7 linked regions of the Homo sapiens genome follow. The protein of the gene in region 1 interacts with the protein of each later gene in a pairwise test. Each region holds a gene or a part of one and is shown in the gene's direction. Other genes may lie near its edges.

Region 1 (4,169 bases):
GTGTATGTTTCATGGGTGTGGTTTCTGCTTCTGCCCCCATCACGGAGCTGTGGGTCTCTGTGGGACGTGCTGTCCTGCCTGGCCAGGCTCTCACCCTCACCAGCAGTGCGTGTGGACCTTCTGCTGTGTGCACAGATGGGAATAAAAGGTCACTAGCATGGTGCTGGTCTTACCTTAGACGTAGAGCTTCCACCGGGCCAATGTGTTTCTCTATGTATGAGGCTGGGTGCAAGGCCTGCTGGATTCAGCTCATCACTTAGGCCTGTTCTTTGCCAGGTTACCTGTCCTGCTGCCGATTCCTGGATGACAATCAGATCGTCACCAGCTCTGGAGACACCACGTGGTAAGTACCTGACCCGGGGCAGGCAGTGCCTTGAGAACCCACAGCCCCTGGCACATTCCTCTGTGAACATGGAGGAAATAAGGTTCTTGACATAATATTAGGCCATCTGTAATTTAAGTGGCCTTAAGATTTAAAACACATAGTAGCAATGTGTGAATTCATTATACTTTTTTTTTTTTTGAGATGGAGTTTTGTTCTTGTCACCCAGGCTGGAGTACAATGGCTCAATCTTGGCTCTGCGACATCTGCCTGCCGGGTTTAAATGATTCTCCTGCCTCATCCTCCTGAATAGCTGGGATTACAGGTGCCCGCCACCACGCCTGACTAATTTTTGTATTTTTAGTAGAGACCAGGTTTCACCACATTGGCCAGGCTGGTCCTGAACTCCTGACCTCAGGTGACCTGCCCACCTCGGCCTCCCAAAGTGCTGGGATTACAGGCGTGAGCCTCCGTGCCTAGCCTCATTATACTTCTAATAAATTTACAAAGTTTAATTTTCAGCAGCTGAGAACTAAAATACACATTTTTTTCTTTTTTTTTTTTTTTTTGAGATAGAGTCTCTCTCTGTCTCCAGGCTAGAGTGGAGTGGCGTGATCTCGGCTCATTGCAACCTCTGCCTCCCAGATTCAAGCAATTCTCCCCTCTCAGCCTCCCGAGTAGCTGGGAACTACAGGTGTGCGCCACCACACCCAGCTAATTTTTGTATTTTCAGTAGAGACGGGATTTCACCACGTTGGCCAGGATGGTCTCTTATCCGTTGACCTCGTGATCTGCCTGCGTCAGCCTCTGAAAGTGCTGGGATTACAGGTGTGAGCCCCCATGCCTGGCCAACATAGATATTTTAACTACAATCAGGCTCAAAGTACCTGCTCTTCTTTTTTTTCCCCTCTATATATTTGTACCTCCTTAGGTGATGATAGGTGGGAGTAGGGTGGGTTTTGATTGTCCCTTTCTGATAGCATCATGTCATTGTGAACAATGAGCACAGACTAAAAATAACAGACGTCACAATTCAAGTGATTCCATCAGACTTCATTTTTAGTGTTTTCACCTTACAGGTAAACGGAAGCCCACTTAAATGCTAGAATTTTTTCATTTGTGGCATCAAAGTACTAAATTAAATGTCCAGATAGTTATTTTATGAGAGTCATTTTAGACTTCAGCTGGCCATGTGGGTTTTTCTGGTCTTCTGAGGCATGATTTGGTGGCAGGAGCTGTGCCCAGCCCAGGGCACAGACCCCTAGTCACGCAGTTGGTGGGGTTCACCGAGACATGGGCCCTTAACCAACTTGTCAGCAAAGCATCTGTGGTATTATAAGGTGTCCTCGTTGTATAAATTTCATAGATTTACAAAAGATTTGTCACCTAGATTGTCAATCTTGAGAAGACTTTATTTATTAGAAGATATTTTTAAAGTGCTTCTGTTCATTAATCATTTTTTTCAGACTCTTTTACGTATCTTGCTTCCCTTCTGCAGTCAGTCCCTCAGGCCCTAGAGAGGAGGCTCCCTGTGCAGTGTCTGTTGAGATTGGCTGATTGGATTTGCATTGCCAGGCCCAGCCAGGCTTTCCTCTGAGGCTGACATGAACGGACAGTGCTCTCTGGTGTTGCCTTCCATGGGTCGAGGCACAGGAGAATAGTATGTTGGTGGGCGTGTGGCCCTCACAGCTGTCCTTACACCTGAGCCAGGCTTCTGCTCTGTGCAGGGCTCTGTCAGCGTCTCACCTTTTGACAGCTTGTTAAGCAGAAATGTGATAGAATACCAGGTATGGCCGGGCGCGGTGGCTCATGCCTGTAATCCCAGCACTTTGGGAGGCCGAGGCGGGCGGATCACCTGAGGTCAGGAGTTCGAGACCAGTCTGACCAATATGGAGAAACCCCGTCTCTACTAAAAATACAAACAAAATTAGCCGGGCATGGTGGCGCATGCCTGTAATCCCAGCTACTGGAGAGGCTGAGGCAGGAGAATCGCTTGAACTCGGGAGGCGGAGGTTGTGGTGAGCCAAGATCGCGCCATTGCACTCCAGCCTGGGCAACAAGAGTGAAATTCGGTCTCAAAAAAAAAAAAAAAATACCAGGTGTGATCACTGAGAACTCAGCTGCTCTCCTGTTTGTGATTCCAGGAAAGGGCAGGAGGACCTCAGAATTGCTGTGAGCCATTTGTTTACCTGGCATTGGCCTTCTCCTGCCTGCCTTTTCTGAGACCCTGTGGAGGGGAGGCCAAGGGAGGGCACAGAGGGAGCAGCCACAGATAGAGTCGCGTCCCCTCCGCCATCCAGGGCCTCCACGTAGCTTCCTGCCACCCCTTCCATGCCCATCCATGACCAAAGAGGGGGCACAGCCTCAGTGGTGCTGCTTGAAAAGTGCCCCCAGCTCCCTGTTTGCTGGCATTTGAGTTGAGGTAGCGATCCCGTCATTCTGAAGCCCAGGCCCTGTGCTCATCTCTGTATAATTTTGCTTGCTTTGCTTTGTTTCCCTTCCAAAGTTGTATTACATTTAAATTTGTCTTTAAACAATTTACGTTTTTAAAGTAACAGTGCAGAGGCTCACTGTGGCCCTGGGTGGTTTGAAGGACAGATTGTCTGTCACATGACTAGCCACCCAAGAAGTTAAGGCTGATGTCCCCTTGTCATTCGCTCCTGCTCCAGTGCCCTGTGGGACATCGAGACCGGCCAGCAGACGACCACGTTTACCGGACACACTGGAGATGTCATGAGCCTTTCTCTTGCTCCTGACACCAGACTGTTCGTCTCTGGTGCTTGTGATGCTTCAGCCAAACTCTGGGATGTGCGAGAAGGCATGTGCCGGCAGACCTTCACTGGCCACGAGTCTGACATCAATGCCATTTGCGTGAGTCTGGGTGGAGGTGTGGGGTCGGGTCCTCTGCCGTCTCTGCTAGCCGTTCAGATTGCTAAATTTTAAACTTTTCTGGATTAGATGTTCTCCTTTCTGATCCTTATACAACCTCATGTACAGATGGGGATACAGAAAACTCCCGATGGGAAACTTCTCTGTGTTGACCACTTGTCTCACAGATACTCACAGGGTGTTGTATGCCAGTCCCCGTTCCCACCTCTACAGCTGAGCAGTGGTTGGGATCCTGGAGGGGAAAGACAGTAAGATAACTCAGGCCACCAGTGGTTACAGAGCCTTACTGGTCAGGGGCACAGCTAACCAGGGAACCTGCCCTCCTCTTTAGCACGCGGATGGCTAGGCAGTGTTTCCAGCCCCTGGCCTTGTGAGGAGACTTAGAAGGATGTATCTGTTGGTTGGACAGAGCTCTGCTGCAGTCCTGACCACAGCCTTGGTCAGCCCGCTTCCCTCCTTCCTCCATGAGATTAGCCCTGATGGCTGGCAGCTACAGCAACATGCACACCTGTCAGTGATGACTACTTTCTCACTATCCTTTGGAATAAATTCTACTCTTTGGGGACAGTAATCACAGTGTCCAAGATCACAGTGTTTGTGTGCCTCCCCAGTGCAAATCCCCTCCCATCCCAGTCCCCTGTAGTTCCTCCCCCATCCCCCCACCCTTTTTTTTTTTTTTTTGAGACGGAGTTTTGCTCTTGTTGCCCAGGCTGGGGTGCAATGGTGCAATCTTGGCTCACCGCAGCCTCCGCCGCCTCCCGGTTTCAAGCAGTTCTCCTGCTTCAGCCTCTTGAGTAGCTGGGATTACAGGCGCACGCCGCCACGCCCAGCTAATTTTGTATTTTTAGTATAGATGGGGTTTCTCTATGTTGGTCAGGCTGGTCTCAAACTCCCCATCTCAGGTGATCCACCCGCGTCAGCCTCCCAAAGTGCTGGGATTACAGGCATGAGCCACCGC
Region 2 (4,374 bases), on another chromosome or scaffold:
AATATTTTTCTCCACATATTTCAGTTTTGTTCATGAATATTCAAGAAGACATCCTCAGCTTGCTGTCTCAGTAATTCTAAGAGTTGCTAAAGGATACCAGGAGTTATTGGAGAAGTGTTTCCAGACTGAAAACCCTCTTGAATGCCAAGATAAAGGAGTAAGTTGCTCTAGAATTTTAGGGGAGTATGAAAAACTGGATTGATATCATCTGTTAAAAATGCTGTTTGTTTGAAAGCCTCTAGTTTTCAACTAGTTGTTAGCCAGTTATATCTATTTGTCTAGATATTAAGCTGTTATTAACTAGCAGTCAGCAGCTAGTGGCTTGCTTTAGAAACAAAAATGTTAATTGCTTCTCAGCCTTTTGGCTAAGATCAAGTGTAGAAATAAAAATGTTAACCAAAAGTCCTTTGATCCACAAATAAAGGTAGTATTCATTATTCATTTTTGGATAACTTCAGAAAGGCAAGAATTTGGTACAGAAAGAACTGTAACCATTTATCCAAAGATTGAGTTTTGCCATTAAATGATTTTGTGATTTATAAAATGTTAAACTTAATCTCCCCAAAATCCATTTTCTGTAATTATCAAAATTTACACTTTACCATATTTAATATTTAAACATCTCTGATTGGTTTTATAATAGTATATAATATTGATCAATTTTATATACAAAGTTATGCATCCAAGAAAAGAAAAATGTATATGTAATAATTCTTCATTTTCAGGAAGAAGAATTACAGAAATACATCCAGGAGAGCCAAGCATTGGCAAAGCGAAGCTGCGGCCTCTTCCAGAAACTAGGAGAATATTACTTACAAAATGCGTATGTTTTTGTAAACAGTATTTTTAGTGAATTAAAATTATTAAAGAGAATGTAGCCTTCCCCATTCTCCTCCTTTGGAAGCAACAAGAATGACCTGTGAGGTCTGATCTGTGGTATTGACTTTAAGTTCCCCATACTGTGCAAATTTTTGCAGTAAAGATATCCATTCTGTCATAGTCTGTCCGAGTTAAAGCACCAAAAGATCACAGTTAAAATCAATGAAGCTCCGAGGTTGAGAATACAAGTCAGGCTTCCTCCTGGAGTTTGCTTTTTCATTGTGATATGCTTCTATAATAGGAGTACAGGGAGTGGTTGTTAGAGTAAATGCATCTCAAAAGTTGGTTCAAATACCATGTAGATGAAACAAACGAGCTGACCTCATGTCTTCTGGCATGAGAGTAGAGAGTCTGTGAGAAGAAGCAAGGCGGCTAAAAACTCATGAATGACTCAGCAGGACTTAGTTAAAAAATGCTTCTTTCAGGTTTCTCGTTGCTTACACAAAGAAAGCCCCCCAGCTGACCTCGTCGGAGCTGATGGCCATCACCAGAAAAATGGCAGCCACAGCAGCCACTTGTTGCCAACTCAGTGAGGACAAACTATTGGCCTGTGGCGAGGGAGCGGTGAGTGTCTGCTTGGTTTGGTCCCATCTCATTTCTGCCCTGTTTGACTTGAAATAGCCTCATAATTCCCCTCTAGGGAAGACGGTAAAAACCAATGTAGAGATGGCCTTAGGAGGCTTGTTTGATTAGTCACGGTTGGAGGGGTGTGAGAACCCAGCTCTGGATGGCTGGCATGTGGCCATGCTTCCTATTCCTCCAGGGTGGCTGGTGGAAGTTCAGCCAGTTTAGTCAACAATATCTGAGCCAACTTTATATATCGGAAAGACAGAACGACCAACATGTAACTCATAATTCATAACAATTCATAATTCATAACTTCAAATCATAATTTCTGCTTTTTGTTCATATACTTACTTTGATGTTTTAAAAAAGCTTTATCTTTGATTGATTAAAATTAGTCATGCTATTTTAGCCATATTTATATTTTCACCTTTTGTAACATGATATTATTATTATGACATCAGGAATAATTGGTTCCCTTTCGCAGGGTATAGGGTACAGCACAGGATAAGTATTATGTTCTGAATAGTAAAATGACTTTCGAGTCAGTAATGCCAATATTCTTTACTTCCTAATGTCACTAGTATCATACATAAGATTACAGGATGAATTAAAAATATTTTTCCTATAAAGTCATAATTGCAAACAAAATTGTCTATTTTATCCTTTTTCCTCTTTTTCATAATGGGGAGTTATTTGCTGTTAGTCTTCATGTCATACATTTTTTCCCCAAAGGTTAAGAGTAAAAGGAGAGTTCTTGTGATTAAATGTCACCTCAATTGTTTGTTGAATTTCCCATGCTGGGAGGCTGCAGGGATGCAGGATGGTGTAATGGTTCAGGAGTGTATGTTCCGGAGGCCACCAGCCAACAACCGCATTCTACTTTCACTATTCTTTAGTTGTATCACAGTGGGAAAGCAACTTATGTCATTAAGCTTGAGTTTTTTCATCTGACATTTGAGAATACAAATTATACCACCCTCATACGACAGCTGTTTTAAACAAGATAATCTGCATAACTCACACAGCACTAGTCTGACAGATAAAGTGCACACAAAACATATTATTTCTTATTACAAGTTATTACTAGGTGATTAAGAAATATCTCCTAAGTAGGCAAGGTAGCAAGATTCTACATTAGGAAAGTCTTAAAAACCCACAAAATTGCTCTTACTTCTTTTCAATTAGGATGATATATTAGCTGCAAGTGTATACATGTGTATATGTATGTGAATAAAAGGGGTAAGTTTGTGCTATTCTTACCTTCAGATAGTGATTATCAAAAGAAAAATGGAAAGTTCAACTAAATACACATGGGAAACATAAAGGCAGAGACATTTTTGTCCTTTAGAAGTGTGTATGTAACTGGAAGCATGTTTCAAATAGCTGACACAAATAGCTAAATGACTATCCTCAACATCACATATGGACCATCTGCTACTACTTGCTAAGGCTTAGCCCAAACAAATGGGTAAATCCTGGAATTTACAATATAATGTCACATGATCCTACATAGCAAATTTTCCTGTAATATTAATTATAAATTGCTGGGCATTAGAAATTATTGCAGCAGTTTTCTGAAAAACTGAACCAACTTTGTGACTAATGCCCAATCTCCTTACTTTTTTTTCTCATTCTCCTAACCAGGCTGACATTATTATCGGACACTTATGTATCAGACATGAAATGACTCCAGTAAACCCTGGTGTTGGCCAGTGCTGCACTTCTTCATATGCCAACAGGAGGCCATGCTTCAGCAGCTTGGTGGTGGATGAAACATATGTCCCTCCTGCATTCTCTGATGACAAGTTCATTTTCCATAAGGATCTGTGCCAAGCTCAGGGTGTAGCGCTGCAAACAATGAAGCAAGAGTAAGAAACTGTTACTTGCTAGCATGGAAAAGAATGACAACCCCAAAGAGTAACTGAGACTTCTACCTCGCTCACCTAACACTATTGGGCTCACTAACAGAGCGTTACTCCCAAAACACTTAAAATGCCTTTGAAAATAGTTTTGTCTCAGTGTCTTCACAGTCTCATTGGGGAAGCAGGTCTAGAAAAATTGACGAGGGTGGACAATTTCCTGTTTGTAAAAATAATCTCTGTTGTAACTGTTATTGTGATATGTATTTGGGGGTTGAGGAAAAGTGGGCAATCTATTCTGAGGAATTAGAGTGTATCTTTGCAGCAAATTTGGGTACTTCCATTCCAAGCACAGGAAACACATCATTGAATCTTTTTTTACACTATTTACACTTTGAAGAGAATAACCATCTTATTTAATTCAACCATGCAGTTTGGGTGTTAAGAAATGACATGTACATTTCAGTTCATTGTGGGAGCTCTTTTGTAATGGTGATGGTCATGCAAGTCAATGGAGCTTATGTTCTTCAAACTCCCATGCATTTTAATCCTCACTTGTTTTGTAAATAGTCTTCCTTCATTGGAAAACCCATTCTTCTCTTTTTTCCTCTATCACAGTCTGAGGTATGTTTCACAGTATGATAAGAATGTTGCCTGTTCTGGCAAGCTTTTTCTATTGCTCTGGTCTACTTTCTATTGCTCTGGTCTAAGTCCAACATGAAAGGCTTGCTAAGTGAGCAGTGCAGGCAATTAGTGCTGCCAGTGCCCAGATAAGGGGTGTGATAACTGGATGGGCAGGATTCGGAGATCTGGGTCTTTGAGTGTAGATAAGACACAGTTAAGAAGAGCGGACAGGAAAGGATATTCCTGGGGGATGAGGGGAGATTGCCTTCCACTACACATAAGTATGGTCAAGTATGAAATAGTGTTTTATCCACAACCTGCACAACTCCAGGCTGGTGGAACACTTGGCATGCTTTCAGCCTCAATCTTTCTACTGAAAGTACTAGACAAGGTGTGTGTGGTCAGTCTGGTGATAGGTTGATGGAGTAAGGGTTTAGGCTCTGAA
Region 3 (4,015 bases), on another chromosome or scaffold:
GCCTGTAATTCCAGCTACTCAGGAGGCTGAGGCAGGAGAATTTCTTGAACCCGGAAGGCGGAGGTTGTAGTGAGCCAAGATCGAGCCATTGCACTCCAGCCTGGACAACAAGAGCGAAAAAAAAGGAATGCCTGGCTCTGCTGTTTGGAGCTGTGTGGCCTTAGACAAGTCACCTCACCTCCCTGAGCTACTGTTTCCACATCTGTAAAATAGGAATTATAATACATGTCTCACAAGGTAGTTGTACAGATTAATGAAATAACAGAAGTGATTTCCATCATGGCTCAGTTGCCTTGCCTCTCCTCCCTGAATCCAGGAATCTATGTTCTCAGCCCCAGGACAACCACACAATTTAAAACCTGTTCTACAATGCCACCTCCCTATCTGTTGCTAGAAGCCTGCTCCCAGCAGTTATGTGGGCCATCCCCCTGCCTCTGCATGAGATCCCCTCTCTTTAGCCCAGCCTACTCTGCCTTATCCCCACTCTCCCTTTCCCAAACTCAGGGAAAGAGCCCCTTTCCCTTGTCCATCTCAGGTTCACTGTGCTGTTTGGGAAGTTCTTCTGAAGCCTCACCCAGAGCCGGCCTGGAAATAGAATGATCGCCAGCATCTGTGTGAGGACGGAGGCTTTGGGTCTCTGGATTGACCCGTGGGAACTCAGAAGGATGAACCTGAGGTGACACCTGAGAACAGGATGGAATCGCACTGTCTGTCCCAGGCATCTCTGAGGCTCTGAGAGACAGAAGGGGCACAGTGGGGGCTTGGGTAGTATGGGGTCAGGGTTAAGTATTGGGGTCTGGGATGAAGCCGAAGCCTGGAATGGGAGGATTTCTCAGCCAAGGCCCAGGACAAGCACTGTCAGGATGGGTCCCAGGGCCCCACTTGGGGCAGGGCTCAGGGTCCCCCCTCCGGGGGCTGGGGTGTCAGGCTTCCGCCCGCTCTACCTACCTGCACATAGTTGTCCTCGCAGTAGTCAGCGACCCGCAGCAGGGCACTGTGGTTGCCCCTCAGAGCCTCCCGGCCAGTGGGGATCTCAAACTCCTGCAGCTGCTGTAGCTCCGCCATCACCCCCAGCCTCTGTCTGGCTCCCCAGGGAGCCCGCTCGTTTTGAGTCTCACCCTGCCCTTGATTGGTTGCTCTGCCTTCCCTCCCTCTTATTGCTTTTGGTTTCCTCTGCGTGAGACCCAAACCTGCTTGCAAAGGGCAGGCATGCTCATTCCGGGACAAGAGGAAGTCAGTCCTGCTCCCCGAGCCTGTGTCTCTCTGTCCCCTGCCCAGAGGAAGGGGGAAGCCAGGGGCCCATTTGGGGGCCCAGCCCCCAATCCCACCCAGCAGAGGAAGCCAAGGTCGGGGCAGCTGTGATTGCTCCCTGGTCCTGGAGAGGAAACTGGTCGGCTGGGGGATGGGGTCGGAGACTGGGGAGGAAGGGGGCTGGCCTGCTATAGGGGGCGGAGGTGGATTTTCCACTCATGGAAGGCGGGAGGAAAGGGCAGAGGGTGGGGGCTTCCTTGGGAAGCTCAGGGATGAGTCACCAAGGGACAGGGGAGTGGAGGGTGGATAGGATATGGAGATCCGTCATACCAGAGGACTGTGGGGCAGCAGCACAGCAAAAATAGAAAACAGCCGATGCGGCAGCAAGAGGGGTCAGGGTTGGACACCGGGAAGACATGACCAGAGAGGTTGCCAGAGGGGTGTTAGCAAGCCTGCGAAGGGTTGTGTGTGATGAAGATCTGCCCTACACGCTCTGTGCAGATGAAGGCAGGACAAGATGAAATTGACCAAGCGTAATGTGAGGGACTCAGATTAGACAACAGGAAGGACTTGGATTTGAGAAGCACCAGGTTCAAATTTCAGATCAACTTGCGGTTTTAGGAAGCAGCGGTGGACAGAGCACTGAGCCTGCCTAGGAGGTATGGGCTGTGGTTCACGCATTAACAGGACAGTTGTACCAGACAACCTCCAGGATCCTGTTCTGATTTCAAATTCTTAGAGCTCCCAGCTGAGAGTTGGACTGGGTCCTGGAGCACGGAAGTTAGGATGGACGGCGGGCCTCCTCTCTGCCCCTCCCACCACCAAGCCTGTCATCCTAGAGACAGGAGAATAAGAGGACCTCCCATTGACCATATTGGTCCCTTAACTTTTGCTCCTCCAGCGGGTCCCTTGTCATTGGATGGGTGTCAACCAGAGCAGGAGCTCAATGTCTGTTAAATGGCATAGCCCTTGGGTGGTCCTGGGGGGACAGCAAGAAAAAAACCAGGATGTGGGTTCTGTGCTCAGGAACCCACATTCAGGGCTCAGAGGGAGGCATGGCAGCAAAGAAGCTTGAACAGAGGCATTAGAGGTGGCCACGCCCCAAGTACTAAGTGGCACAGCTTGGTGAGCAAGGACATTTTTATTGAATGAGTGGATGAAGAGTGAGCTAGGAGAACTTCGTAAGGTGAAACTGTGGGGATCCAATGGGCAACACAAAGCATCTTGGTTAAGGAGGTTAGGGGCCGGTCTAGGACTTGCCTCAGGAGGAAGGACAGCCTCAGAGCATGCTCAGAGGTGGGAAGGGAAGGAGGAGAAAGCAGGCGAAGCGGGGTAAGTGGGGCTGCAGGGTGGAGGTGGAGAAATAGAAGCGCTGCGGGCTCTAAGCTAGTGAGGTCACCAAAAGTGTGAGGCTAACGCAAGGCAAGGTGGTGAAAAGGTGGCTTCTGTTTTCGCGTTTGTTTTTGTGGGGAGAATGTCTGTCTCTCTGCTCTGCTGTAGTGAGGGCTTGAAGGCTCAAGCGGGTGATGGGCTTAGAACTTTGAGCCTATGATCAGCTTAGGCATCAGAGATTTTGGTTTCCAGGCCATCTGCTTTATCTGAAGATTTTCAGCTGATGAAGAACTAGGAGGCTCAAACACTATCTTACCTGAGTCCAGGACAAGTGACTTGGAGAGTGTGCTCTTCTGTGGCAGGTGAGAGGGGCTGAGGTTGCACTGGGCTGGGATCTACTCTTAGTATCACTGGGGCTAGGCACCAGGAAGGCCTTCCTGATAACCCTGCAGTGATAATAATAACAATAGCATTATTAGTGATAATAATAAGTGTATTAAGTGTTCATTATGTGCCAGGTAGTATATTATAATATTTTATAGACATTATTTTCTTAGTACCCACAATAATTGCATGTGGTAGGTTTTTTTAATACCCATTTGCAGCTGGGGAAACTAATACTCAAAGAGGTTGAGTGACTTCCCTAAGGCCACACTGAGAAAGCAGTAAGGAAGCAGCAGATCAGAGTTGGAGTCTGGTAAGCTCCAGACCCCCTTGTCTCTCTCTCTCTCTTTTTTTTTTTTTTGAGATGGAGTCTCACTCTTGTCGCCTAAGCTGGAGTGCAGTGGTGTGATCTCGGCTCACTGCAACCTCCGTCTTCTGGGTTCAAGTGATTCTCCTGCCTCAGCCCGCTGAGTAGCTGGGATTACAGGTGCCCGCCACCACGCCTGCCTAATTTTTGTATTTTTAGTAGAGATGGGGTTTCACCATGTTGGCGAGGCTAGTCTCGAACCCTCAACCTCAGGTGATCTGCCTGTCTCAGCCTCCCAAAGTGCTGGGATTACAGGCATGAGCCACAGTGCCTGGGATCTTTTTTTATTTTTTGAAACAGTTGTTCTCTGTTACCCAGGCTGGAGTGCAGTGGCATGATCTCAGCTCACTGCAACCTTCGCCTCCCAGGTTCAAGCAATTCTCATATCTCAGCCTCCCGAGTAGCTGGGATTATAGGCACTCACCATCACCCCGGCTAATTTTTCTATCTTTTGTAGAGACGAGGTTTCGCCATGTTGGCCAGGCTGATCTTGAACTCCTGGGCTCAAGCGATCCTCCCACTTTGGCCTCCCAAAGTGCTGGGATTATAGGGGTGAGCCACCGCGCCCAGCCAAGACCCCCTTCTCTTGACCATTATTGTATACTCTCCCTTGCTGGACCTGGAGAGAAAGAGGAAAACTCTGAGTCACTATATGAAACAATAACGTTGCTTCCCAGATCT
Region 4 (4,374 bases), on another chromosome or scaffold:
GCTGCGGGCAGGCGGGGCCCAGCTCTGCTCCGTGCGGAGGCTGTGTTCTGCCCTCTCCCTGCCCACAGCATGACTCAGAGCCACCTCACTGCTGCCCTGGGCTAACAGATGCGAACTGGAGCTCAGGGCAGTCTTCTGGGGGTAGTAATACTCTCCAGAAGGCAGACTCCTTTTTAACTTTCCTGTTGAGCTGGTCCATTACCACATCCCTCCATGGCCCCCAGAGTAATTTGTATTTTCATGGGGGCTGTTCTGAGAGCCTTGTAGTTGGGTGAGGAGATGGTGTGATTGTGAGGCTGGAGGTCTCGGCCTCTGGGCCTTGCTGATCACTTGGTGGGGTGTTCAGTGTCCTGCAGGCCATCAGGAAGACCGTGTGTGACTGGGAGACGGGGCATGAGCCCTTCAATGACCCAGCCTTGCGGGGCGAGAAGGACCCCAAGAGCGGCTTCGACATAAAAGTACCACGCCGCGCCGTGGGACCCTCCAGCACTCAGGTTCTCGTCCCTTGAGCCCCGCCTGCACCCTCTCCCTGGGGGGACCCACCCTGAGCTGTGAGCGGGTGGGGCTGGTGAGGCCCGGGTTAAATGAGGTCCTCGCTGCCTGCTCAGGCAGAGAAAGTGGCGCCTGTGGTTTCTGCTGCTCCTCTGTTTCCCACCCAAGTGAGTTGGGAGCGTGAGGAGACGTGCCTTGATTGTCAGATGTGTCATGTGCACTAAAAAGGAGTCTGACTCCATTTCAACTCCCATCCCAAAAATGTGGGCACAAGTCCACGTGTCTGTATTCATTCTGTGTTTCTTGATGGGTGTTTGAATGTCTGTATAATTTTTACGTTGGGTCTGCAAATGACTGTAGATGGGGCGTGGGAAACTGTGAGGTGCTGCTTGCGTGTGTCATGGTCCTAAGCTGCCCACTGTCCTCTCTCCTGGTGTGTTCAGGCCTCCCCGAGGTGCTTCTCACGACTTTCACACCCGGTTTAATCCACACCGCTGCGTCTGTCCTCCGTCCTGGGGCTGGTCTTCTCCCTCATCTCTGCCGGAGGCTTTTAATCTCTTCTGCCACTCTTCTGGAAAGTCACCAGCAATGCACGCTGCTGGCTCTGCAGGAGGGTCAGGGGGACGGCCCTCGGCCTGTGCGTGGTGCCAGCCACCCTCCCTGCCTCCCTCTGCGTGCGTCCCGTGTCCCTGCCTGGGGTGTGTGTGTCGAGTGACTAACGTCTCTCTCCTGCCTCTCCCTCCTGTCTGTCCGTGTCTAGCTCTACCTGGTGCGCACCATGGCCGAGTCCTTGGGCTCTGCCGAGCTGCTCAGGCAGCTCAAGTCTCTGGGCATGGAGAGGCTCTTGCATGCGGTTAACACGTTTCTGAGGCAGTCGTGCACCTACCTACCCCTTTTAACCTTTGGTGGTAAGACATCATTTGTTTCTCTTGACGTTTATGGCACGGAGGCGAACTGCTCCGCTACAAGTTGTTCTTTCCCCAAAGCAGCAGCAACGTGGCCGCGTAGACAGGCACCCGGACCCCTCGGGGAGCTGGTGCGGGGCCCTCCCGACCAGGGCGTAGCGGAGCAGTCCTTCTCTCATGGGCTTTTTGAGTTTGGCATAACTAATGTACCATGTATATTTTCTCCCCCACAAATGTTTCCTTGGATAATCCAGCTTTACATGGTGAGAACCATGCTAGAGTCCCTCATTGCAGACAAAAGTGGTTCCAAGAAAACCTTGAGAAGTAGCCTTGAGGGGCCCACCATATTGGACATAGAAAAATTTCATCGAGAGTCATTCTTCTACACTCACTTGATAAATTTCAGTGGTAAGAGATACTGCTGAGCAGCATCCGGCCTGGCATGTCCTAACACCACTAACACCGTCTAGAATGCTTCCGCCCGCCTGACCACCCCCTACCCCGTCCCTTGGTGCACCCAGACGGTGACTCGTCCTGCCCTCTGTGGCGGTGGCTGTACGTCCCTGGCCTGAGCTCGCTCCACAGGGCGTGGTCCCTACAAGGGTATAAACTGAGGAGCCCGGGCTGGCCCTGAGACATGAACAGAAAATCTTTTCAACCCATGCGGGGTTGGAAACAGGCGAATGTAATCTGGTGCCTGAGTTGAGACACAGGCATTGATAAATACTAGAAATGGCCCTTGCAGACCATGACGTGGGGGGAAGGTGGCGGGTGCCCTGTGCCAGGCAAGCCCATCCTGGGTGACACCCGGCCACCTTGACCGGCCACCGGTGGGTGCGCTCTCTGCCCTCCGTGTGTCTGTCCCGTGTTCTCATCAAGTCCTCCGTTGTCCACCTCTTGCTCAGAACAGGATCCCTGCTGTCTTGGCTGGGGTGCTGCGAGGTATTGGAGGAAATAGTACCACTTTTGCTGTTAACTCCATGAAAGGATGGAGTTCGAGTGTGGGCTCTTTTAATCTGTCTCATTTTTGCGTTAGACAGACCTCCCTGAGTGTGCCTCTAATGCTGCAGCCTGGACATTGGTTTTTATCCTAAGTGAAAGTGAAGAAGTCCTGTTTTTTTGTTTTGTTTTTTGTTGAGACGAAGTCTTGCTCTGTCACCCAGGCTAGAGTACAGTGGGGCGATCTCAGCTCACTGCAAGCTCCGCCTCCCAGGTTCAAGAGATTCTCCTCCCTCAGCCTCCCAAGTAGCTGGGATTATAGGTGCTCACCACTGCGCCTGGCTAATTTTTGTATTTTTAGTAGAGATGGGGTTTTACCATGTTGGCCAGGCTGGTCTCAAACTCCTGACCTTGTGATCCACCCGCCTCGGCCTCCCAAAGTGCTAGGATTACAGGCGTGAGCCACTGTGCCCAGCCAGAAGTCCTGTTTTTATGTCTCCTTTTGAGAAGAACATTTTTAGGTAAGACACAGTGGCTCATACCTGTTAATCCTAACACTTTGGGAAGCCAAGGCAGGAGAATCACTTGAATTCGGGAGTTTGAGACCAGCCTGGGCAACATGGCGAGACCCCCATCTCTATAAAAAATACAAAATCAGTTGGTGGCACGTGCCTGTGTTCTCAGCTACTTGGGAGGCTGAGGCAGGAGGATCGCTTGAGCCCAGGAGTTGAAGGCTGCAGTAAGCTATGATCGCGCCACTCACCTCCAGCCTGGGTGACAGAGTGAGATAGACTCTGTCTCAAAAAAAAAAAAAAGACACTTTCCCCCTGGATCCCACTGAAGGGCTCACAGGGTTGATGAGGTGGCTTTACCTGCAGCTATGCCCAGCTGGTCCTGTCCCTAGTGCAAGGCCCCGGTGACCCCTCCCCACTCATGTCCATGCTGCATGGCTTGGGGCTGAGCGAGGAGGAGCAGGCACCCAGCACACAGCCCTTGTGTCATCTCTGCTAAAGGTTTTTTTTTGCTTGCGGGAGATAACATGGAGTTGTTTGAACCCTCCCAGAAACGCTGCAGCAGTGCTGTGACCTTTCGCAGCTGTGGTTCCGAGAGTTCTTCCTGGAGCTGACCATGGGCAGGAGGATCCAGTTCCCCATTGAGATGTCGATGCCCTGGATCCTGACGGACCACATCCTGGAGACCAAGGAGGCATCGATGATGGAGTGCGTGTCCTGCGGGCCTGTCTCCAGCCTTTGTGTGTGGTGACCGGGGGTCCTCAGAGGAGGTGGCGGAGAGGCCGGGACTGTTTTTAGTATTGTATTTGAAATCAAGTTTCTGGGCCTGGGCAAAATAGCAAGACCCCAGTCTCTACAAAAATGAGAAAACTTAGCCTGGTGTGGTGGCTGATGCGGGAGGATTGCTTTACCACAGAAATTTGTGGCTGCATTGAGCTATGGATTGCACCACTGCATTCCAGCCTGGCCACGTAGCAAGACCCTGTCTCCAAATAAAAAAAAAAAAAAGAGAAATCATGTTTCCTGGGGTAAAGCTTTAGAGATTAATACAAGTAACTAACCAGTTTCTTGGTGTCAGACTGGAATTGAGAGCTCAGGCACTAGAACCAGTCACGTTCCTACTTTGCATGGGTGCTGGCTGGGACCCGGGGACTCAGCCTGGACCAGGGAGATGGATGAACCTGGACCTTCCCCAGGCCTTCGTAGTGCAGGCCCTGTGAGGTGGCCATGCCCGTGAGCTGCCTTGCGGGAGCCCTGTGGCCTGGCCTTTTGTGTGACACAGCCTCTGACCCAGATGAAGTGGGGAAAGGAAGTATTGATTGAACAGCTTTGTTCTGGGGATCAGGACTGTGGACCTAGATGGAAGGGCAGTCTTTCAAAATATAAAGTTCATGGAAGGGAAAGTGTTTGGAAAAGGGTGTGTCTCATGGTGAGCGACTGGGGAGCCGCCCAGCCGGTCTGTCTTCTGAGCACCGTGAGTGGGAAGCCCCTGAGTTCCTTGTGCGTCAGTCCTCACACATCCCTTG
Region 5 (4,374 bases), about 230 Mb from region 1:
ATTTCCCCAGAGATTATCAATGCCACCCCCACCCCTTTTAGGAGATGGCATGTGCCATGATCGTAGCTCAGTGGGATCCTTAATGCCTAGTGATCTCGGCTTAACAGGACAAAGATTCCAAGCCCATGTCTGTTCTGGGAAGCAAAGCAGGATGTGTGGGCCTGGAGTGAAGTTTGTTCCATTTCTCGCCATAGGCCATGGTATGATTACAGCTGTGCCTAGTGCTGCCTAGTTTTACTTTCATGCCTGATTTGCAATGTGGCAGGGTCCTGAGATGAGAGCTCTGTGTGGGCCAGTAGAGTCAAGAGACTTTGTCCTGGTCACTTGGCTACTTGCAGGGGGTTCTGGAAAGTCAAGTTCTCTGAATCTCAGTTGCCTTTAATATAAAAGGAAAGCTATAGTTTCGGGTCGGATTGATTCACATGGTTTTGGTCGGGAGTGAATGAAATTAATGTAAATTAAAACACATTATGAGTAGCAAAGTGCTATGCAATCTAAAAATAATAACATTTTAATCACTCTTATCATCATATGTGCCAGGCACTGTTCTAAGCTGTCTACAAATAGTAACTCATTTAGTTGAATGCTCACAACCACCTTATGAGAGAGCTACTGTTAATATCACCACTTTACTGATGGGGAAACTGAGGCACAGAGAGGTTAAGTAACTTGTGGAAGGTCACACAACCAGCAAGTGGTACAATCAGGGTTTGAACCAGTCAATGAGGAGTCAGCATTTGTTATTGTTCCTATTCCTATAGCATAGCTGGGAAGGGAATGCAATGCTGGTTTGGAGAACACATCAAGCAGGCCTCCTGTCATCCACTGAGTGAGATGAGATGATGGCCATACATTGCGGCACAGCCAGCTATCCATGGTCTGCAGCAACAGATCAGTCTTGCAGGGACATGGATAGCTCCGCTAGTGAACATTCACATGTTCAACGAATAGCTAGAGTAAATAGTTGGATCTCATTTAGAGGCATGCTCTGGCATTCCTCTTTCACGTCATTTGCTTTCCAGGCCCACTCCAGGATGAGAGTACTGAGGTGCCATAAAAGACCAACAGGCAAGATGTTGGAGGGTTCAGGAGCTGCCAAGGTTGTGTTCATGCTGACCTGTTGGCATAGCGTACAGCAGTGCCAGCTGCTCTGCTAAACCGAGGAGCTGAGATGCTGTGTTGATTTCTACATGTTCCAGGCAAATACTTCCTGAGGATTGTCAGGATTTACATAATGGATTGGCCCTGGGACCACTGAGCCAGCATCTATCTTTGACAGGTGTACTGAGAGATGACCTTTAAACCTAGGGATGTTCTCCAGATGCAGTTCCAGCTGGGCCAGTAAGATCTGCATGTTTATGGTGCTGTTTTTTCTTTTCTTCCCAGGCAGCCGGGATTGCTTACCACCTGCAGCGTGCTTTCGGAGGCGGCGGCTGGCACGGAGGCCGGGCTACATGAGAAGCTCGACAGGGCCTGGGATCGGGTTCCTTTCCCCAGCAGTGGGCACACTGTTCCGGTTCCCAGGAGGGGTGTCTGGCGAGGAGTCCCACCACTCGGAGTCCAGGGCCAGACAGTGTGGCCTTGACTCGAGAGGCCTCTTGGTCCGGAGCCCTGTTTCCAAGAGTGCAGCAGCCCCTACTGTGACCTCTGTGAGAGGAACCTCGGCGCACTTTGGGATTCAGCTCAGAGGTGGCACCAGATTGCCTGACAGGCTTAGCTGGCCGTGTGGCCCTGGGAGTGCTGGGTGGCAGCAAGAGTTTGCAGCCATGGATAGTTCTGAGACCCTGGACGCCAGCTGGGAGGCAGCCTGCAGCGATGGAGCAAGGCGTGTCCGGGCAGCAGGCTCTCTGCCATCAGCAGAGTTGAGTAGCAACAGCTGCAGCCCTGGCTGTGGCCCTGAGGTCCCCCCAACCCCTCCTGGCTCTCACAGTGCCTTTACCTCAAGCTTTAGCTTTATTCGGCTCTCGCTTGGCTCTGCCGGGGAACGTGGAGAAGCAGAAGGCTGCCCACCATCCAGAGAGGCTGAGTCCCATTGCCAGAGCCCCCAGGAGATGGGAGCCAAAGCTGCCAGCTTGGACGGGCCTCACGAGGACCCGCGATGTCTCTCTCGGCCCTTCAGTCTCTTGGCTACACGGGTCTCTGCAGACTTGGCCCAGGCCGCAAGGAACAGCTCCAGGCCAGAGCGTGACATGCATTCTTTACCAGACATGGACCCTGGCTCCTCCAGTTCTCTGGATCCCTCACTGGCTGGCTGTGGTGGTGATGGGAGCAGCGGCTCAGGGGATGCCCACTCTTGGGACACCCTGCTCAGGAAATGGGAGCCAGTGCTGCGGGACTGCCTGCTGAGAAACCGGAGGCAGATGGAGGTCAGTGTCTCTTCCACCTCTGTGGCCCGAGATTGTCGTGAGCTCAGATTAGCACTGGGCAGACGGCAGGAAACGAGGGGTTCTGGGCTCAACTGACTTCCTCCTGGAAGCTGCAGCAGCTCCTTTTGGAGCCGGCTGCACAGGATGTTGCTGCACTTCTGTCTCTTTGAATTGGACACAGATCTACTCTCCTTTTTGTCTTCTCTGTCACTTAGGTGCTCAGATTTGCTCTCCATTGGGCCGCAGGCTCCTCTGCAGGCCCCGGCTTAGGTGAGACGTGGTTCATGCAGCCCAGCTCTGCTTTGAGACAGGAAACTGGGGGCAGGGGAGATTGAGCTGGGTGATGTTTGGAAGGACTTGAGAGATACAAAAATGGGGATGCCCTCTATCAGGGCGATCCTGCTCTTCATCCGCTTCACTCATTCCCTTCCATCCTGCTGCAGTGGCTGCTGCCTTCCACAGGGTCGGGAGACTTCGCTTCTGGTCATTGAACCTCTTTGGCTCTCAGTTTCCGTATTTAGAGATAACACCAACTCATAGGATTGTTCTAAGGCTCAAATGAGAATGTAGCTGCTTTGGAAATAAGTACAAACTGGAGACATCTAAGGCCCAGCCTTATGATGATGCTGTCCATCCAGTTATCTGAGAGGTGGGTATAGCCGGAAGTAGGTAGGGTTCCTCTACCCACAAAAGTTCCCAGAGAAGCCCAGGTAGAGATGCTCTGTGGCTCATCTGTTGCCAGACTGTATTTTAATCCTGGTGTGTGTGTGCATATGTGTTTGTGTGTGTATGTGTGTGCATGTAGGTGTGCCTGTGTGTGCGTGTGTGTGTGTGCATGTTTGTGCTGTGTGTTCATGTGTGTGTGTGCATGCATGTGCGAGTGTATTTGTGTGTGTGCACTCATGTGTTTCTGCGTGTGGTGTGTGGATATGTTCATGTGGGTAGGGAAGTGGAGCACCCACTCATCAGGCATTTGGGAGGAGTAATCTGCAGAAGTTCATGCTCATTCCCCGAAAGAGCATCTCCCATCTGTTCTTTATCTATAGTCTGATGTTTCTAGCCCTGTCCCTGTTTGCCCTGTTTCAGCCCTCAGGGACCTCAGCCCAGCCCTCTGATTTATTATGCAGAGAGGGAGTGAGGTCAGAGCACAGATGCAGGCTTGTATTCTGGGTGATGTGTGGAGTCTTCCAGTTAGTCATTGCCTAAACCAGTGCCCCTTGTCTTTCCCCGAAACCCGTTCTGAAGGGCCTCCAATATTGGTTGATTTGAATGCATAGAATCTATCCAGTTTCTTAGGCCAGAAACCACAACCATCTTCCACACCTCCCTCTCCCTTGTTCCACATCTGGCTGGCCTCCAAGCCCTCTCAGTCCTACTGCTAATCTGTCTCTCATCACCATGGCCGCTGCCCTGGCTCAGATCCTTGTTATCTTTCACCTGGGTTTTGCAAGAGGGTCTACCTTCCTGCGGTGTTTCTCTTCTCCAGTTAATTAAACTAAATGTGATCATATGTGCAAAGTGCTTCAGACAGGGCCTGGCATCTAGCAAGTACCCAGAAATTAACCATTGTCATCATTAGAGAAATAGCTCCAATTTAGAGAGTTTGAGTCAAAAGCAAATGAAGCTCTCCCTTCTGTCCATAGCTCAAATTAAATTCCTATCTTATCTCAAATGGTAGAATCTGGACACACTTTTTCTTTAGTGTAAGTATTGTTGTCTATGGCAGTCCCACAGCTGGGCAGGGAAAAACATGACACTCTCTTCAATTACACTCATGTACTGCATAATGACATTTTGGCCAATGACGGATCACATATATGATGTGACAGTGGTCCTGTGAGATTATCGTACTGTGTTTTTGTTGTACCCTTTCTATGTTCAGATATGTTTAGATACAACAATACCTTACCATTGTGTGACACTTGTCTGCAGTATTCAGTACAGTCACATGCTGCACAGGTTTGTAGCCAAGGAGCAATAGACTATTCCATCTAGCCTAGGTGTGTAA
Region 6 (4,374 bases), on another chromosome or scaffold:
TTATTGGAGAATAAGAAAAAAAAGTTTGGTTAATCAGGATTGTATTTATACTGACACATTTAAAAGATTTAAAGATAAATGTTATGTACTTCCATGTCCTAGAACCTATAATGTGATTTGTTTATGGTTCTTCTTTGCCTTATTGATATGTGTATTGAGACCCAGGTTTTAAAATTTAAAAATGTTTTGTTATGAAATAGTCTTAATCTAAATGTCTTTAAATGGTTTGGGGCCTATAAGGGTGACTGAGTACTTCTATTTGCTCTTCCAAAGAAACACAACTTGGAAATTAGTATATAAATTTTCAAACCACAATCCTAACAAAATGCATTGGCAAATAAGATACTCTATTGCTCCTGGTAGCAACATGCATTACAAAAATAAGAGCAAGCTTCTTAAAAGCAGAGTTGCTGGCTAGTCAACTTTAAAATTTTAGACACTCTGTTAAGGTTAGTATAATTTATTTAACTATTTGATATCGAAAAATAATCACATATTGGAAGTAGGATATTCTTGGAGGCAGGTTTATGTAATGAGAAAAAACGCAAGGTAGAACCAGACTTACTTGGTTCCAGTTCCAGCCCTACTATCTAATATCTGTGTTACTTTGAGCAAGTCACCAGACCTTCCAGTTCCTTTGTTTCTTCATCCATAAAATGAAGATAATAAGAGTACTTACCTCATAGGGTTGCTATGAGTTACTTTATGTCAACTGCATACTACAGCATATAATAGATATTAGCAATTATTTTAAGCTCTTCTGACACTTGGAACCAAACTCTTGACATTTGTCTTTCAAAAATTGCTTTTGTGCAGGACCAACATCCAACAGGGGTCTTTGAATTCAGGTACACCTTGAGACTCAAGATCATAGGCTACATTTGGTACCAATTTACCAAAAAGGTTACTGGACAGACCATATATCTTTCCAAGCAGCATCAGGTTTTTCTCTCAGCAGGAGTCTCAGAAGAAGCAGTTGGCATGGCAGTTCACACTGCCCTGTGATTGGGAAGCTGCTTTCCCAGGTGACAGACCAGGTGCAAGAAAGTGAGATCCACACCAGTGGAAGTGAGGTTCACGTAGGCTTAGAATCCTCATGTAAGGCGTATGTCTGGTAACAGTCTTGAATCCAAACTATAGGGAGTTAGACTAGTGTCCTACGAGTAGAAAGCATTCTAGTGTTTTGACACAATCTCTGTGAGAAACTTCCAAAAGCAAGAGAAGGAATATGTACCATGTCTTTTTGAATATTCCTCTTAGCTATCACTAATTACAATAGGGTTTTGGCAAGGGTTTGCTAGCAGACATTCCAAATTGACATAGTTGTCAAGGATTTATAGGTATTTAGTGTTTTTGAGAAAAGATCCAGGTATTCTATACAAACTACTTACATGGACGAAATGTTAACATTTTATGAGGAAACAGAAAATGTATTTTATTGTTGCTAAACTCCACCTTTTTGTAGTAAATGGCTATTGATATGTTTTTAAGAGCAAGTCCTTTATCCGTAAACATTTGTAGAATTGGTCCAATTTGTACCGTTGTTAAACTGAAACCATATAATACCACAAAGCACAGAAGAGACACTATAATAAAAGTAAGATTTATACAGGATAATATTTAACAGGATTCTATTTAAATTGGCGTATTAGGGTTATTTGCAAAACACATTACATAATTAGCATAAGAGTTAATTGAACATAATCACTTATCCATCTAGATACAAAAAAATGAGGCAGAACTTATTGATTTATGTTTGGGCATAGACAATATTGAGCAGCTTATTGTGACATTAATAGACTATCAGGCTCAGTTATTTTTATTTTTATTATTTATTTATTTTTTTATATGGGGTTTCACTGTCACCCAGGCTGCGGTGCAGTGACGCCATCTTGGCTCACTGCAACCTTTGCCTCCTGGGCTCAAGTGATCCTCCCTCCTCAGCCTCCTGAGTAGCTGGGGCAACGGGCACATGCCACCATGCCCACGCTTGGCAATAATTAACAAAACCTCCTGGAATAATAGCTCTTTTTTCTCTTTTTTCCCTACAGTTGGACAGTGTCACATCCCTGATCCAAGCAGCCAAAAATTTAATGAATGCTGTAGTGCAAACAGTGAAAATGTCTTACATTGCCTCAACCAAGATCATCCGAATCCAGAGTCCTGCTGGGCCCCGGCACCCAGTTGTGATGTGGAGAATGAAGGCTCCTGCAAAAAAACCCTTGATTAAAAGAGAGAAGCCAGAGGAAACGTGTGCAGCTGTCAGACGAGGCTCAGCAAAGAAAAAAATCCATCCATTGCAAGTCATGAGTGAATTTAGAGGAAGACAAATCTACTGAAACCACTATTCTACATATAGTGCCTATATGACAAAATCCTGCCTAACCACACTGCTTTATTTTACACTTAAGAAGTTCTGTAATTTCACTAAGTTTTGGTGTTTAACTCACAAATAACATAAAATATTGGGCGCTAAATCAACAAAAGCAATATATATTTGGGATCATATCACTGTCATTTCTGTATGGTCAGCACCTAATAGTTAAGGAATATTTGCTTGTTGAATGAATGAAATTATCACGTGTCATTCAGCGTTTCCCATCATAGAGATTATCTACTATTCGTTACCAAATAAACACAGGAGAGGCCAGAGAGTCCTGTTTATCTGTAATACTTCATGTACACTTATCATCCTTATCTTGAATTAAAACACTAACATGAGCTCCTAACTTGGTTTTTTAATAGAAACAAAAGACTTTTATAAAATATTTTCCCATTTAATCTCCATGCTTTCTTTATCTGATCTAACCTGGCACCTAACCAGGCAGAAATGTATGATTCCTGCCATAGCAAAAAAACCACCTTTTAATCTCTAGATAGCTGTACTCATTGTCAACTTATTAGGCTAATATCCATTATAAACTAATCAAATTTGAATAGTTAGGCTACTTGCTGGATTTTGAAGGTCAACCTTGTTTATTAATAAAATGCTTTCTTAACATTATAAAGGTTACAATGAGTTCTGATGCCACATACTCACCTTTTGGGTTTCCAATGTGTTAGAGAGTTCTGTACTTTTGAGTGTTAGGCCTATCCGAATACATATGTGAAAGAAGAGTTATCACCCATTGGGAAAATGAGACAACAAACTATATCCCAAAGTGAGTTATATTAATAATAACAGAAGTGTAAGTTCTGTATGACCCTATTTTTACAAACATAAAAATACATTTTTATCAGCTTGCAATTGTAATTAAAAGGAAAATGGCAGTTTGAAAAATCTTTTGACGTTGAGTAAAATATAACTGCATGAACTGTACCATTGAACTATGAAGCAGTTAATGGCAATGAAGCTGGAGTGATTTTAATAACGTTCTTTTAAATAAAAGTCACTGGGGTCATTTTACAACTCCAGTCACTGTGTTCATTCCTAGTTGAGTTCATAATGGACTTCATAATAGTCTTAGAGTCTAGTGTACCTCTCTCTGTCATTCTCTCTCTCTTTTTCTCTCCCCTGATGACCTGCCTCTCTCTGTCTTTCAAAAATGTCCTTAACAGAAACTCTTTGGAGGCCATAAGTTTTGTTTTCATTTTTTCTCATTCATAGAGTTCTGATTCACAGACTTTAAAAAACATTTTCTATTCTACATTATCATAATAGTATTATATTGTACCTTTTTACTTCTAAAACATTGCCATTGATGAGAGGCGTCTCAGCAACGATGTAACCTTAGATTGATGAGAAAAAAATTTACACATACAATACCAGTTGATATTAGGAGAACCAGTTTGGGTAAAAGGATGCATGAAACATAGAAAAGCATAAAGATTGACAGTACGATATGTGTGGAATCTTAAGCATAATGGTATGGGAAAAGAAGGATCTATTTAATAGGTCATTATTAATTATGCAGGAAATGTTAAATTTCTTGTAATGAATTATTTCAATCTTCCAAGTAGCTGGATTGCCTGAGCTCAGTGTAAAACTTCCTAGGAGGTGAAGGCAATAAACTCCTCCCTGTTTTGCACCATAGACTGGCCTACAATAACTATTCTGAACAGAATGCACTGCCCAGAAGAAAAGGCAGTGAAGAAGGGAATTAGGGAATTCAGATGACTCTGTTTTTCAGAATTATCTAGATGATTGAGGCAAATAGAGATTTTCTTTTATTGAAATGCTGCCATCATTTTCTGCTCTAAGTGTAGATGTTGCACGAGTGACATCTGTGGTATATCCTTCTTCCAGATAGAAGTATAAATTTATAATTTAGTGGGGAGAGGAATTTTCTTTTAATCACCAAACTACCAGCTGTATAGAAAATTTTTTTGAAATCACCAAACTAGCAGTTGTGTATCTTAGCTCCTAAAGCCACA
Region 7 (4,374 bases), on another chromosome or scaffold:
ACAGTGTTGAATAGCCGTGGTGAAAATGGGCATCCTTGTCTTGTTGCTGATGTTTAAGGGAAAGCTTTCATTACTTTTATCTTTGAATATGATGTTGGCTCTGGGTTTTTCATAAATATACTTTATTATGTTGAGGAATTTCACTTCTATTCCTAGTTTTCTGAGTTTTTTTTTTTTTTAAATCATGAAAGCATGTTGGATTTTGTCATGCCTTTTCAGCATCAATTGTGGGATCATGTATGCAATTCTTTACTTTTTCTGTTAATGAGGTGTGTTGGCATTGATTGATTTTCTAATGCTGAACTACCTTTGTATTCCTGGGATAAATCCCACTTGGCCATGGTGTATAATCCATTCAGTATGCTGTTGAATCTGTTCGCTAGTATTTTGCTGAGGATTTTTGGTCTATCAACTACTCACACTACCCTACTTGAGGCTACACTGTTGGCCATTCATTCCTTTGATAGTTGTTATTGTTGACTCCTTTCTTCCCAAACTACTCTTGGTGTTTCTGAGGCAGTATGCGCTCCTGTTTTTTTCTCTCATTTCTAGGCATTTCTGTGCCTACACTGTAGATTTTTCCTCTCTTCATCCTTTAAGTGTTAGTATATCTCAGGGATCCTTATGAGCCTTTGAGTGATCCCATCCACATCCAAACTTTTATTTTTATTTTTTGTAGAGATGGAGTCTTGCTATGTTGCCCAGGCTTGCTTCAAACTAGTGGCCTCAAGCAATCCTCCTGCCTCAGCCTGCCAGAGTGCTAGGATTATAGGGGTGAGCCACCTTGCCAGTTCCACACCCAAACTTTTTTTTTTTTTTGAGATGGAGTTTTGCCCTGTCGCCCAGGGTGGAGTGCAATGGTGTGATCTTGGCTCACTGCAACCTCCACCTCCCGGGGTCCAAATGATTCTCCTGCCTCAGCCTTTTGAGTAGCTGGGATTACAGGCACCTGATACCATGCCCAGCTAATTTTTGTATTTTTAGTAGAGACAGGGTTCACCATGTTGGCCAGGGTGGTCTCGAACTCCTGACCTTGTGATCTGCCTGCCTCAGCTTCCTAAAGTGCTGGGATTACAGGCATGAGCCACCGTGCCCGGCCCCAAACTTTTATATATTAGTAACTCCCAAGTCACTGTCTCTGGATAAGGCCACTTCTCTGATCTACATGTAGAGCCACCCTCTGAACAGCTCCATTGCATTGTCCCACGGGTATCCCAACACCCAACAGAACTCACAAGTCTTTCATGTTTGGGCCTCTGTTTACCTGTCCAGAGACTATCAAAGTTGTTCAGAGCCATTTCAATCTTAAGGTAAGAATGCTTTGCATTCAGTTCAAATCTGGGTTATGGCTGGGCACAGTGGCTCATGCCTGCAATCCCAGGACTTTGGAAGGCCAAGGAGAGAGGACTGCTTGAGACCAGGACTTTGAGACCATCCTGGACAACATAGCAAGGCCTCATCTGTATAAAAAATTTTAAACATTAGCCAGGCATGGTGGCTGGCTCTCACCTGTAGTCCCAGCTGCTCTGGAAGCTAAGGGGAGGATTGCCTGCCCCAGAGGTTGAGGCTGCAGTGAGCTATGATGGCACCATTGCACTCCACCCTGGGCAATAGAGCAAGACCCTGTGTCAAAATAAATACAAACAAATAATAAAAATAAAAACAAGTCCGAGTTATGCTGGCTTCTAGCTCTGTGTACTAGAGCGCATTCCTTAGCTTCTTGTTTCTCTGTTGCCTCATTTGTAAAGTGGGAATGATAATACTTGGTATTAGGATTAATGTGATCCATATCAAGTTCTAAATGAACTGCAGCTCTTTAGTGATAGCATTGGTCAGACCCGAGGGGATACTGTGCAAAGGGGTGGAAAGTAATACCAAGCTGACCATTGTTTCTGCCGACCCTGACTTTTGTGCTTTCACCCAGTTTCTGGTGGAGAACCTGATTGACAGAAACCAGATTAAAACTGGAGCCTTACTCTAATAACCCTACTGGGTTTAATCTGCAGATTTATCTTTATAGCAAAATCTTTTTATTGTTTTAATAATTAAGATCCCTTTGGCTGGTGATCCAAATTGGATGTTATTCTGCTGTATAGAAAACAGTATTTATTAATGTGTTTTTATACTTGATGCTTGTCTTAAGGTGATCATCCACTGATTTTCACTTAAATAATTGTGCTTTTCTATTCCCTCTGTCTCTGTGCTTAAAATCTTGGCTTTACCATTCATGAAAAAGAATGGAAAATATATCCATTAAGAATCAGATAAGAATTCGTTAAAAGAGAAAGCTTGGAAATCTCTATATTTAAGTACTTTTTAACGGTGCTGTGAAATGATTAATTGCTTTGTTTTAAATATTGCTAAGACACCATAAATTAAATATTTACACATCCTTTTTATATTTAAAAATAGATTCAACAATTATTAAAGCTATTAATACCTGAACTCCTAATCAAAATCAAAGAAATTTTTAGTTTGAATAAGGCAATGGGATGGAAAATTTGCTGTGTTTTTAAGGCTCCCTTTAAGTTTAAAAACTAGGTGCCTAATTTGTGACTTTTTTGCTAAATTCACTTTTAAAATGACTTAAAAATCACTTACGCTTTATTTTTCTTTCAAATCTTTTTCTCCTAATCTTTTAAAATAAGGAAAGGTGCCTCCGTGTTGGGTATTATAATTGTATTCAAGTTTTTGCAACTCCATTCAAAAAAGTACGTATTTTGTAAGCTCACCTGGACAGGTGGACTTGATGAAGGGGATGGCTCTGAGATGCCGGTTTTCAGCCACAGGCCCTTCAGCGCTTAAACAGTTAGAGACAGGGTACGTTTCTGGCCGAAACCCGGGAGCCGAGTCCTCAGGAAGCCGCAGGGGGCCTCGAGGGAGCGGACTGGGCCGACTGGCTCTAGAGGTCCGGCAGCACAGGCTCCGCCCGCAGGGGCGGTGCCCGAGCCGGCTTCCCTAGAGCCCGCCCTCCGCGTCCTGCACCCCCGCGGCCTCCGCGGCCTCCGCGGCAACTGCTCCCGGTGATGCAAACCCTCACTTCCCGCATCCACTTCCTCACAGAGCCCGCGGAGCCGGCGGGAGCCGCGCGCGCCGCCCAGCCGTGCGTCATGGGCAACATCCAGAAGAAGCTGACTGGCAAAGCCGAAGGCGGCAAGCGGCCGGCAAGGGGCGCGCCGCAGCGGGGCCAGACCCCGGAGGCCGGCGCGGACAAGCGGAGCCCACGGCGGGCCTCTGCGGCGGCGGCGGCGGGCGGCGGCGCCACCGGGCATCCGGGCGGCGGGCAGGGCGCGGAGAACCCTGCCGGCCTGAAGAGCCAGGGCAACGAGCTGTTCCGAAGCGGGCAGTTCGCCGAGGCGGCCGGCAAGTACTCGGCGGCAATCGCGCTCCTGGAGCCAGCAGGTAGGTGCGCCGCGCCCCGCCGCTTCCTGGGCCCCTCGCGCTGCGGTTCACCCGACCTCCGGGGCCCCCGTGGGAGAGGCGCTGCCGCCTCCTGAATGACAGGCGCCGGCATCGCTGCATTCCTCCCAGGTGACTAAGAGCGCCGTGCCACCTGACCTCAGTGAGCAGCACCTGGGAATGCCGGCATGTTCCCGGCCAGGCACGTTTGCCTCCGTCCCCGCCGGGTTTTCCCTTGGTGGCTGTTGCGGGTAGCAGCTCCGTGGAGTTCTGCATGATCAGTCTGCAGGACTGCAGTGCCACCCCACCGGAGACCTCGGCCGTCTTGTAATTCTGGTGAACTGTGATCTTGCTAATGGATTTTAACTGTATTTAATTAAATGTGATTTTTAGGAAGTGAAATTGCAGATGATCTAAGTATCTTATATTCAAATAGAGCAGCATGTTACCTAAAAGAAGGAAACTGCAGTGGCTGCATTCAAGATTGTAACAGGTAAACTGCACGTTTTCAGGTTTGTCAAGAGATTGTTATAATTTCATTATGGTGAATGCAATATCCAAGATCCTAAATTTTCTGCCTAAGGATCTAATTTCTTAAGAGCTTTATGGTATGTTAATTGATTGATGCATAAAAATCATAAATTATCTTACGTATATGAAGAGAGTTATAGAAGATTGTGCAAACTTTTTTCATTTCCACTGCTACCGCCCTAATTCGTGCTCTTTTCATATCACTCCTAGACTACTGGAGAAGCCTGATAACTAATTCCAATCCACTGCGGCATCAGAATAACTTTCCTGAAACATTATTTTGTTCAGATTGTTTCCAACAGGCCTTTAATGGCTCAGTATTGGCTTCGAAATAACTGTAAACTTCTCTGTCACTACACTGCCTCCAAGCAAGTTTCTCCTTCCGTTTGGTCTACTGGACCACTTGCTTACTCTCGCCCACCTTGTTCTCTGAGCCCTTGCCCA

What was found.
Region 2: the proteins of GNB1 (region 1) and AFP interact in a two-hybrid assay, tested with the Homo sapiens proteins (one large-scale study listed by BioGRID and IntAct).
Region 3: the proteins of GNB1 (region 1) and GNGT2 interact in a two-hybrid assay, tested with the Homo sapiens proteins (one study listed by BioGRID).
Region 4: the proteins of GNB1 (region 1) and CYFIP1 interact in a two-hybrid assay, tested with the Homo sapiens proteins (one large-scale study listed by BioGRID and IntAct).
Region 5: the proteins of GNB1 (region 1) and DISC1 interact in a two-hybrid assay, tested with the Homo sapiens proteins (2 studies listed by BioGRID and IntAct).
Region 6: the proteins of GNB1 (region 1) and CTNNA3 interact in binary tests that used the Homo sapiens proteins (3 or more experiments, as listed by UniProt).
Region 7: the proteins of GNB1 (region 1) and SPAG1 interact in a two-hybrid assay, tested with the Homo sapiens proteins (one large-scale study listed by BioGRID).

The regions. Positions count from the first base shown.
Region 1 is NC_000001.11:1,789,419-1,793,587, reverse strand, and holds part of GNB1 (guanine nucleotide-binding protein G(I)/G(S)/G(T) subunit beta-1), read left to right. Parts: intron 1-276; coding exon 277-343; intron 344-2,991; coding exon 2,992-3,193; intron 3,194-4,169. UniProt on the Homo sapiens protein: Guanine nucleotide-binding proteins (G proteins) are involved as a modulator or transducer in various transmembrane signaling systems.
Region 2 is NC_000004.12:73,449,311-73,453,684, forward strand, and holds part of AFP (alpha-fetoprotein isoform 1 precursor), read left to right. Parts: intron 1-24; coding exon 25-157; intron 158-725; coding exon 726-823; intron 824-1,304; coding exon 1,305-1,443; intron 1,444-3,090; coding exon 3,091-3,314; intron 3,315-4,374. UniProt on the Homo sapiens protein: Binds copper, nickel, and fatty acids as well as, and bilirubin less well than, serum albumin. Only a small percentage (less than 2%) of the human AFP shows estrogen-binding properties.
Region 3 is NC_000017.11:49,207,775-49,211,789, reverse strand, and holds the start of GNGT2 (guanine nucleotide-binding protein G(I)/G(S)/G(O) subunit gamma-T2), read left to right. Parts: upstream 1-1,215; 5' UTR 1,216-1,346; intron 1,347-2,389; exon of another isoform or gene 2,390-2,583; intron 2,584-2,835; 5' UTR 2,836-2,945; intron 2,946-4,015. Other genes in the region: ABI3 (ABI gene family member 3), read right to left, coding at 949-1,065. UniProt on the Homo sapiens protein: Guanine nucleotide-binding proteins (G proteins) are involved as a modulator or transducer in various transmembrane signaling systems.
Region 4 is NC_000015.10:22,913,908-22,918,281, reverse strand, and holds part of CYFIP1 (cytoplasmic FMR1-interacting protein 1), read left to right. Parts: intron 1-346; coding exon 347-494; intron 495-968; exon of another isoform or gene 969-1,270; coding exon of another isoform or gene 1,271-1,651; coding exon 1,652-1,805; intron 1,806-3,399; coding exon 3,400-3,556; intron 3,557-4,374. UniProt on the Homo sapiens protein: Component of the CYFIP1-EIF4E-FMR1 complex which binds to the mRNA cap and mediates translational repression. In the CYFIP1-EIF4E-FMR1 complex this subunit is an adapter between EIF4E and FMR1.
Region 5 is NC_000001.11:231,692,440-231,696,813, forward strand, and holds part of DISC1 (disrupted in schizophrenia 1 protein), read left to right. Parts: intron 1-1,386; coding exon 1,387-2,366; intron 2,367-4,374. UniProt on the Homo sapiens protein: Involved in the regulation of multiple aspects of embryonic and adult neurogenesis. Required for neural progenitor proliferation in the ventrical/subventrical zone during embryonic brain development and in the adult dentate gyrus of the hippocampus.
Region 6 is NC_000010.11:65,918,295-65,922,668, reverse strand, and holds part of CTNNA3 (catenin alpha-3), read left to right. Parts: intron 1-2,051; coding exon 2,052-2,339; 3' UTR 2,340-4,374. UniProt on the Homo sapiens protein: May be involved in formation of stretch-resistant cell-cell adhesion complexes.
Region 7 is NC_000008.11:100,210,027-100,214,400, forward strand, and holds part of SPAG1 (sperm-associated antigen 1), read left to right. Parts: intron 1-3,063; coding exon 3,064-3,402; intron 3,403-3,792; coding exon 3,793-3,892; intron 3,893-4,374. UniProt on the Homo sapiens protein: May play a role in the cytoplasmic assembly of the ciliary dynein arms. May play a role in fertilization. Binds GTP and has GTPase activity.